Homo sapiens: one gene and its partner. The protein of the gene in region 2 interacts with the protein of the main gene of each other region in a pairwise test. Each region holds a gene or a part of one and is shown on either strand. Other genes may lie near its edges.

Evidence for each region.
Region 1: the proteins of CELF3 (region 2) and SOBP interact in a two-hybrid assay, tested with the Homo sapiens proteins (one large-scale study listed by BioGRID and IntAct).

Annotation. Positions count from the first base shown.
Region 1 is NC_000006.12:107,502,856-107,507,167, forward strand, and holds part of SOBP (sine oculis-binding protein homolog), read left to right. Parts: intron 1-801; coding exon 802-940; intron 941-949; exon of another isoform or gene 950-2,211; intron 2,212-3,386; coding exon 3,387-3,572; intron 3,573-4,312. UniProt on the Homo sapiens protein: Implicated in development of the cochlea.
Region 2 is NC_000001.11:151,702,617-151,707,644, reverse strand, and holds part of CELF3 (CUGBP Elav-like family member 3), read left to right. Parts: coding exon 1-138; intron 139-350; coding exon 351-500; intron 501-910; coding exon 911-976; intron 977-1,283; coding exon 1,284-1,421; intron 1,422-1,679; coding exon 1,680-1,823; intron 1,824-2,476; coding exon 2,477-2,604; 3' UTR 2,605-2,614; intron 2,615-4,196; 3' UTR 4,197-5,028. UniProt on the Homo sapiens protein: RNA-binding protein involved in the regulation of pre-mRNA alternative splicing. Mediates exon inclusion and/or exclusion in pre-mRNA that are subject to tissue-specific and developmentally regulated alternative splicing.

The DNA of each region.
Region 1 (4,312 bases), on a different chromosome or scaffold from region 2:
GTTCAAGTGATTCTCCTGCCTCAGCCTCCCGAGTAGTTGGGATTAAAAGTGTGTGCCACCAGGGCCAGCTGATTTTTGTATATTTGGTAGACAAGGGGTTTCACCATGTTGCCCAGGCTGGTCTTGAACTCTTGACCTCAAGTAATCTGTCTGCCTCAGCCTTCCAAAGTGCGGGATTACAGGCGTGAGCCACCGTGCCTGGCCTGATTTTTGAAAAAACTCTTGCAGAAGGAAAAAAATAAAAAAGGAAGACCCTTGTAACCTATTGTAACCTAGCTTTCTGTATGGTACTGTTAACAATTCTGAAATTTTTCTTTGTTGAAATTTGGCGTTATCCGCGATAAGAGTTATCTTAAGAAAACAACACCTAAATCAGAAAGCAATTTTAATTGAAATTGATCTGAACCACAAAAGGTTGTTTTCATTTTCAAAATCTTTTCTTAGCTGTTTTTGTGATTCACCTTTCAATATTTTTGTATTGATGTTGGATATAGATTTTATAGACTAATGTGCTAAAATATGACTTCCTGTTCATAGGCAACACTAACAAATATAGTTAGTCTTTTTTGTCTTATTATCTTTAAATTACAAATATCTGAAGCCCTGTCATAATTGAATGCATCATCCTAAGATTTAAAAACATTATGGTTTTGAACATGATTTGAAAAATGAACACCACACTAGGGGAAGTGAGGCAGGGCTGCAAATAAATGAGGTAGGACAAGCAGAATTCAATTTATGCATTCTTTTCAAGTAGTTATTGATTATAGAAATAAGTAGTAGCCTATGCTTCTCTTTCAGAACTTTGCAGAAAACACCATGAATGAACTCCTTGGCTGGTATGGCTATGATAAGGTTGAATTAAAAGATGGTGAGGATATTGAATTCAGGAGCTACCCTACAGATGGGGAGAGCCGGCAGCACATTTCTGTTCTCAAAGGTAATGACATTTAATGTCCTTTTGTTCATGCAAAGAAGGATTAACTATCTCAACCTGCCAGAATTGAGTTGCTTTGGGACTCAATTGAGTTGCTTTGTTGATTATGCCAATGGTTGATTTAAACATACATCCCCAATAGTGCTTTCCCATAAGCAGAATTCTGCAGAATATAAAAGAACAACATAAAACAAAAATAGACACAGCTTAATCTCCTCCCAGCAATGGGAGAACTAGACAAGGACTAGCGACCTAAGTGCCATGGTCCTGCATACAGATTTAAAGAAAGGGACAATGTTTGCTAACTAGAGTTTCCTGATCACTTTGATAGATCATCATCTGTTGGGGACTGGGGTTTCTGTTAAGTGAAATGTTAGGTTTAGATCTTCAGACTGCTAGAGAGATTCACTGTTAGTTTGGTAATCCTCCTTCCTTTTTTTCAGTGGGAAATCTAAACGGAATTACTATTTTTGTTTTGCTTGACATTTTCATTCTTTCCCTGCCCCCACGCACTTGAATAGGGTAAAAAGAGGAGTAAGAGAGTGGTAGATGATTAGAGCCTATATTACTCTTTAAGAATTTTTTAATCAAAGCCCAGCTAAAGAGTGAAAATTACAGAGCCTTGGCAGAGCTGAATTAACACTGATTCTACCAGTGGGTAACAGTGCCAGATATCTCATGGGGGAAGTCTGTATGAATACTGAATTTATGAACCTAAATTAGGAATGAGAGCTTGCTTGTCAAAGAAAAGAGAAGTATGTGAAGAAGCAGCCCATTCAGGAAACTTTAATAAAATGTGGGTAAAACAAATTATACATCATCACTGGCAATTTGATCAATATTTGCGTTGCATTCAAAATCTATTGGCATAAACTACCTGTTCAAACGTTTTATTTCCAGTCTTTAAGATAGAGCTTTCCCTTCTTATATGCCAAGCAAGGAAATGTAATTGAGCTGCCCTGCAGGCAAGTGGAATTGAATGTACATGACAAATTTTATGTTAAGCTTACTATGAAATTGTACACATCATGCTACAGAGATAGTATCATCAATTTCACTGTAAATGAAAAATGCAAGTCATGAGTTTGTATTCTATAAACTAATAGCTCATATAATACTTGGCCTAGGTAATAATCTTTGCTTCTGGGGAACATACAGCATGCCAGGATATGCTACTAGAACGAAAAAGTTGTTTTCCATGGTTGAGGTTTTTGTTCATTTGTTTTTTTAAGTGATTCACATGCAAGGATACGATGCACAAAGCTCATATCGTTGTAAGTTTTTAAAATTTTTATTTTTGTTATTTTTTAATGGGTATTATCGATACCTTGTGAAGCATCAGTTTTCTTCCCTGTTTCTTTCTCATTGGTTCATGTGATTATATTATGATACAAGTTTATAATACAGTGGGACCTAGTTACAATGCTGGAGGGCACGTTTTAGGCTTTCCCCTGGTAGCCAGAGAGCTATGCTTGCTGTATATCATGTTGTACATGGAAAAAAAGGTTAATTGCCTCTCAATTTTCTTTTCTTTCTTTTTTTTTTTCTGAGACAGAGTCTTGCTCTGTCACCTAAGCTGGAGTGCAGTGGCGCGATCTCAGTTCACTGCAACCTCCGCCTCCTGGGTTCAAGCGATTCTCGTGCCTCAACCTCCCAAGTAGCTGGGATTACAGGCGTGCGCCACATGTCTGGCTGATTTTTGTATTTTTGGTAGAGACGGGGGTCTCACCATGTTGGCCAGGCTGGTTTCAAACTCCTGGCCTCAAGTGATTTGCCCGCCTTGGCTACCTGAAGTGCTGGGATTACAGGTCTGAGCCACTGCGCCTAGTCACCTCTCAGTTTTGTTTTGTTTTGTTTTGTGTTGTTTTTGTTTTTTGAGATGGAGTCTTGCTCTGTCACCCAGGCTGGAGTGCAGTAGCATGATCTCAGCTCACTGCAACCTCGGCCTCGCAGATTCAAGTGATTCTCTTGTCTCAGCCTCCCGAGTAGCTGGGACTACAGGCACACATCACCATGCCCGGCTAAGTTTTGTATTTTTAGTAGAGACGGGCTTTCACCATGTTGGCCAGGCTGGTTTTGAACTCCTGACCTCAGGCAATCCACCCTCCTTGGCCTCCCAAAGTACTGGGATTACAGGCGTGAGCCACCTTGCCCAGCCACCACCTCTCAATTTTCTATGGAATTTTACAGTGCTAAAATTTATCACCATGATTCAACTGGAATATTAGCTATCATAGTGGAGCAAATTATAAAGGAGCCCATTGGAAATTTATGGTAACCACACTAAAAAGTTCCTGGATGAACTGTGGAGTTCTAGTACATTGTTTAAAGATTTGCAAGAAAAAATATGTTGGGTTCATGGCCATTTTACTTGAGAAAATAAGGAAAAATTTAAGTCTACTGCATTACATTCCTTGGTCACATTGAATATGATTTTTTTCTTTTACAGAAAATTCTTTGCCAAAACCAAAATTACCCGAGGACAGTGTTATTTCACCATACAATATAAGCACAGGCTATTCAGGGCTTGCCACTGGAAATGGACTCAGTGACTCACCTGCAGGGTCAAAGGATCATGGCAGTGTGCCCATTATTGTACCTTTAATTCCACCACCTTTCATAAAGCCACCAGCAGGTAAGTCACTACTGGTGTTTTCAGTGATAACAATTCATAGAAAGTTGTTTTAACCATCTTAGGAATAATTATTAAATGCTCAAGTTAACTTTGGTAGAGGCTGTTTTAGGGACCTTATAGGTAAGAAATGTTAATACAGGCATCACTTAGAGTATTACTGTTACATTAGGAAAATTTCCCTACCTACTACTACTTAGGCTATAAACTTTCAACTGACAGTAAACCTTTTCTACCACTGACTACAAAACAAAGTTATTTTCCTTCTCTGAAATCACCTGTTTAAATGAGAAAAAAAAGATAAAATGGTTTTTAAAAATAAAATATAGACAATGACTGTTTAGCAAGAAAAAAAAGTAACCATGGTTGGCTTGTAATCCCTGCACTTTGGGAGGCTGAGGCGGGCGGATCACCTGAGGTCAGGAGTTTGAGACCAGCCTGGCCAACATGATGAAACCCCATGTCTACTAAAAATACAAAAAATTAGTTAGGTGTGGTGGCGGGCTAGTAATTAGCTAGTAATCCCACCTACTCGGGAGGCCGAGGCAGAAGGATCACTTGAACCTGGGAGGCAGAGGTTGCAGTGAGCCGAGATCACGCCACTGCACTCCAACCTGGGCAACAAGAGCAAAACTCCGTCTCAAAAAAAAAAAAAAGTAACCATGGTTGAAAACTGGGTGGTGCATAAGGAGGGCCACATCTCCTCTGGGGTCTTCTGAGGAGAGGGATAGTTTTGTAAAAGG
Region 2 (5,028 bases):
TGCAGCAGCAGGCGGCCCTGGTAGCGGCTCACAGTGCCTACCTCAGCCCCATGGCCACCATGGCTGCCGTGCAGATGCAGCACATGGCTGCCATCAATGCCAATGGCCTCATCGCCACCCCCATCACCCCATCCTCAGGTATGGCCTGGGCAAGGCCGGGCAAGGGAGCTAAGCATGGTAGGGGTAGGGAGGGGCACAGGGCATTGCTCAGGGAAGCCTCGGGGTCTGGGAGGGACTCAGGGGTCAGAGAGGCCTGCTTCCTCCCCTCTGCCCACAGACTTGCTGACTGGTTCTCTGCCTGTGTGTGTGTCTGCTCCTCTGCTCTCTCCCTGTCGCTTTCTCCTCCCCAGGAACCAGCACCCCTCCTGCCATCGCTGCCACGCCTGTCTCTGCCATTCCGGCTGCCCTGGGCGTCAACGGCTACAGCCCGGTGCCCACCCAGCCCACTGGGCAGCCTGCCCCTGATGCTCTGTATCCCAACGGGGTTCACCCCTACCCAGGTGGGACTCTCTGCCTGCCCACTCCGTCCCAGCAACCATCTAAACCACCACTCCCATTAGGGAGGCAGGACACACCTTCCCTCCCAGCTTTGGGGGTACAGGTGCTTCCTCCTGCCCTGCCATCCTGGGCGGGGATGATCCTTCCTGTTGGGCTCGGCCAGGAAGCTGAGGTGTAGAGCAGTGAAGCGACCTGTCCAGGGTTGCAAGACAGTCAGACCCAAGTCTTCCTAACGCTGGGCTCTTTCCCCTCTTCCCACTGCTTTGTGCATTTCTGCCTTCTCACTTCACACCCCATGCCCAGAGAAGCTCTGCTCCCCACCTGCCTGGCCTCGGCCCAGAGGCCCAGAGAGGCACTGAGGGCCCCCACTGTGTGCCAGGTCCACGCTCATAGTCTGTGCTGCTCTCCCCAGCCCAGAGCCCCGCGGCCCCCGTGGACCCCCTGCAGCAGGCCTACGCGGGGATGCAGCACTACACAGGTGAGGCGCCCTAGCCAGGGCCCCTGCTCAGGTGGGAGAGGTGGCAGGAGGAAAAGAGGCCCAGTAACTGGGTCTGGGCTTCTTGGCTCCCTGCCAATCACCCTCTTCAGGCTTTACTGACAAGCCCAACTGTGGGGAGGGGTCTTTAAGGGCAGCACACCCAGGGGTCTGAGGCAGCTCCTTCCCTGACCACCTCTCAGCCCTGCAGGTGCCACTGGCCTGGGCTAGGGGAAGGGAGACAGGGTTGGCTGGGAGGGCTCAAGAAGTCAGGGAAGCCCCATCAGCCTCTCTCTTCTCCCCACCCCAGCAGCCTACCCAGCAGCCTACAGCCTGGTTGCACCTGCGTTCCCGCAGCCTCCAGCCCTGGTCGCCCAGCAGCCCCCACCACCACCTCAACAGCAGCAGCAGCAGCAGCAGCAGCAACAGCAGCAGCAGCAAAGAGAAGGTGCTGGCTGGGGCCTTGGGAGACAGGAATGCCCTCGTTATGGGCTTGGGGACTCCCTGTCACCCCGCGCTGAGCCCAGCTCTTGCCCACGTGTCAGGATGAAAGCAAGTGGGGAGGGAGTGGCCGGAGACTTGGCCCACACTGTCAAGGACTGGGACTGGAGGGCACTCCCAGGATCTGCTTTCCCTGGGACATTTGCTTCTGGGGTGTGTGCCTCCCAGTCACTGAGCTCTTTCTTCTGTCTCTGTCGCCACCCAGGCCCTGATGGCTGCAACATCTTCATCTACCACCTGCCCCAGGAGTTCACTGACTCAGAGATCCTCCAGATGTTTGTCCCCTTTGGCCACGTCATCTCAGCCAAAGTCTTTGTTGACCGAGCCACCAATCAAAGCAAATGTTTTGGTAAGAATATGATATGGCACATTTTTTGCCATACTCCAAATCAGGACAAGGTCTAATATATTTGAAGGCATTTATGGTCACAGTGGACCCAGTATTTGAAATACTGATTATCCAAGAGTACAAAAGAGCCATTTTGACACACCCAACATGCCACACCCAGCTGCTGCCTCGGCCCATCTCTTCTTCCTTCAGCGTTTCTCTTAAAAACTGGCCAAATTCATGTCCCATGAGGTCTGAAATAGGCTTATGGTCTGGGGATGTTTGGTTTGCAAAAGGTGGGCTTGGGGAGTCGGTTTTAGCTGCCTTCACATCTTTGAAAGTCTTCCTCAGGGGAGAAAGGGAATGTTCTTCTCTGCTTCAGAAGCCATTTAGGGTCTGGAAGTGGCCGTTTTCAAAGGGCAGGCTCAGAGCTATCCAGGCAGAGGAAGGGGTCACTGGCACAGAATGCTGGGAAGAATGTGGTAGTTGGAGTGGCTGGACTGGATTCATCCATTCAACCCATCAATCAACAAATTCCTAAGGAATGCTGCTATGTGGCAGGCAGCTTTCTAGGCATTTGGGACACTTGGGAGACACAGGGTAGTGCCAGAGGTCTCCTAAGCACGGAAGAGCGAGGTGGGGCTGGGCCGGGCCTTATGCCCCTCTCACCCCAGGCTTTGTGAGTTTCGACAATCCGGCCAGTGCCCAGGCTGCCATCCAGGCCATGAATGGCTTCCAGATCGGCATGAAGCGCCTCAAAGTCCAGCTAAAGCGGCCTAAGGATGCCAACCGGCCCTACTGAGGGCCCCCAGGTGGGTCCCGCTCCGTTGTGGCCTCCCTCCCCAGCTTCACACACTGCAGCCAGGGCCCTCGATTGGACTACACCCCCAACCCCTGTCCTCCACCACCCTCAGGGATGCCCACCCCACCCTTGACCCTGGGCACTTGAAGCAGGGGGCTGGGGCAGCTCCCTCAGCTGTTTTTCAATAATCTGAGTCACTCTCTCTCTCTCTCTCTCTCTCACACACACACACCCTCCGTGACCCCAGAAAGAGCCAAGTCTTTGTATATATGTGTCCACTCCCTGGACCTTCCACAATATCTGGTCTCGTTTGTCTGGTCAGTGTCCATGTCTGTGTGTGTCTCTTTCTGGTTTTCCTTCGGGTTAGAGTGGAATTAGGGGAACAGGACTGGAGGATTAAGGGGTTGGCTGAGGGTGCCAGAGGGCCCTAGAATCCTTGGCTCCTAGAATCTCTGTTGTCCTGAGAAGTGAGGACATCAGCCCTGGTTTCCCTGGACTTCAGGTGATTTTTCCCATGTAGCAGCAGACCCATGGGGCAGCAGAGTGCACAGGACAGACTGGGGGAGCCCATTTTCAGGCCTCTTGGGAGTTGCTCTGGTTTAGGTGGAAGAGGTTGAAATGTCGCGCCGCCTGTGAAGTTTACTTAGGTCTCCTCCACCCCATTGCTGGCCACCACCTCAACCTCATGGCCACAGAGCTGTGAGCCTTGGTTACTTTCGCACTGTTTAATCTCCTTTGGACCAAACCCTTGAGAAAACACAACCCAAGAAAAATACCCACATTTTCTGTTTCTCCCCTTTCCCCCCAATCCTGGCTGCTTAACTCCCCCAACCCTGGGGGCCCCCCCAGCCCAGGGCCCGTGTCCATTGTCGGCCGAAGCCCCCATCCCCGGACCCCTGCTCCGGGCCCCTGTAAGTTGCATGGAACGAGCGTGTTGTCTTTGGAGCCGATTGTTTGTTCTTTGGGGAGGGGCCGCGGAGGGAAGCACCCCCAAGCCCAAGGTCAGGGCCGGGGGCAGCTCGCGGGACGTGCTTGGTCTACAGTGGTTGGTGACTGTGGTCTGTGTTCTGTGCATTTCTCTTGCTTTCTGTGTTCCTTTCCAAAAAGGAATGAGAGCACTAACTGGGGGCCGGGGGTGGTCTCACCCCATGAGACTCCATCCCTGAGCCGTGACCTGGGCTCTGCCCTGGCCTTCTCTGCGGGTGTTCCCTTTCTTTTTCCAGGTGTCTGTCTCTTACACGCACCCCCTTCTCTGTCTCTCTCTCGATTTCTCTGCCTGCCTGTCTGTTGTCATCTCTTTGCCTCTCTCCCCCTCCAGTCTTTATTTTTCTCATGGGCTATCTATTTCCTTCCTAATACCGTTTGGTTTCCTGTATGGTTTGCCCCCTCCCTCCTGTCTCCTCTATCCCTGCTCTCATGGCTGGGGGTGGGGGCAGATGGGTCCGTTTGGACTGAGGCCTGATGATCTGCCTTCCTCAGGCAGCCCCATCCTAGATGCTGTCACTCACCCCAGCCCCCTCCCCTCCCCCAGAGCCCGTGATCCGCATCGGGGGTCTCTTCCCCATGCTTCACCCATGTTTCTTCCTTCACAGGTCTGGAGATCCCAGAGGAAGGGGCGCCTCACACCCTCTTCCCACGACTGGCCCCGGCCCTCTCCGCACACCTGCCCTGGGCCTTGACTGGGTTCTGGGGCAAACGCTGCTTCGTGGCCCCCGGGGGCACAAGACACCGGCCCCTCCCACCCCCCTGCCTCTCTGAAGGGCCATGGCTATGCTTCCCTGGCTCCAAGGGCCCATTTCCTCCTAGATGCCCTTTTGGCCTTTGTGAGGGAGCGAGGAACAGGCTCGAAGGCTCCGGGGTATCTGCCTTCTGCTGGGCTCCTGTGACAGGCCTTCTGTACCCAGCGTTTGTACTTGCCTCCCCCAACAGTGGGCCTGTTCTACCCGTGCAGGCCCCAGGAGAGCCGCAGGGGCCTGCCACACACTCCCAGCTCACCCTCACCCCAGCCTCTTCCCCACATTAGGGGTTTCTTGGAAGCTGGCTCTCACTCCCCTCCACCCTCAGCTAGAGGTAGGATATCCCTGATTCCTGGGCTCCCAGCCCTAAAACTCACTGCCTCCCCCAAGGGCCCCCTCTAAGGAGGGTGTGGGGGAGCCCTGAGGGCTGCCTCTCTGCCAGTCAGCCACAGAGACCCTCCTCCTTTCACGAGGAAAAGACCTTCCCCTGAACCCCTAAAAATGTTTACAGTCTCTGCTGGTTCCCTCTGTGTAAATACCACTACCACCCGTGCGTTATCCAGCCCGCCCGGCCTGGCCCGGACGCTGCCATCTCTCTTTCTGGGAGTTTAGACAATGTTGCCCTTGGATTTTTTTCTCTCTCTTAATTTCTCCCTTTGCTTTGGGGGGTAATTGGGTATTGGGAGGA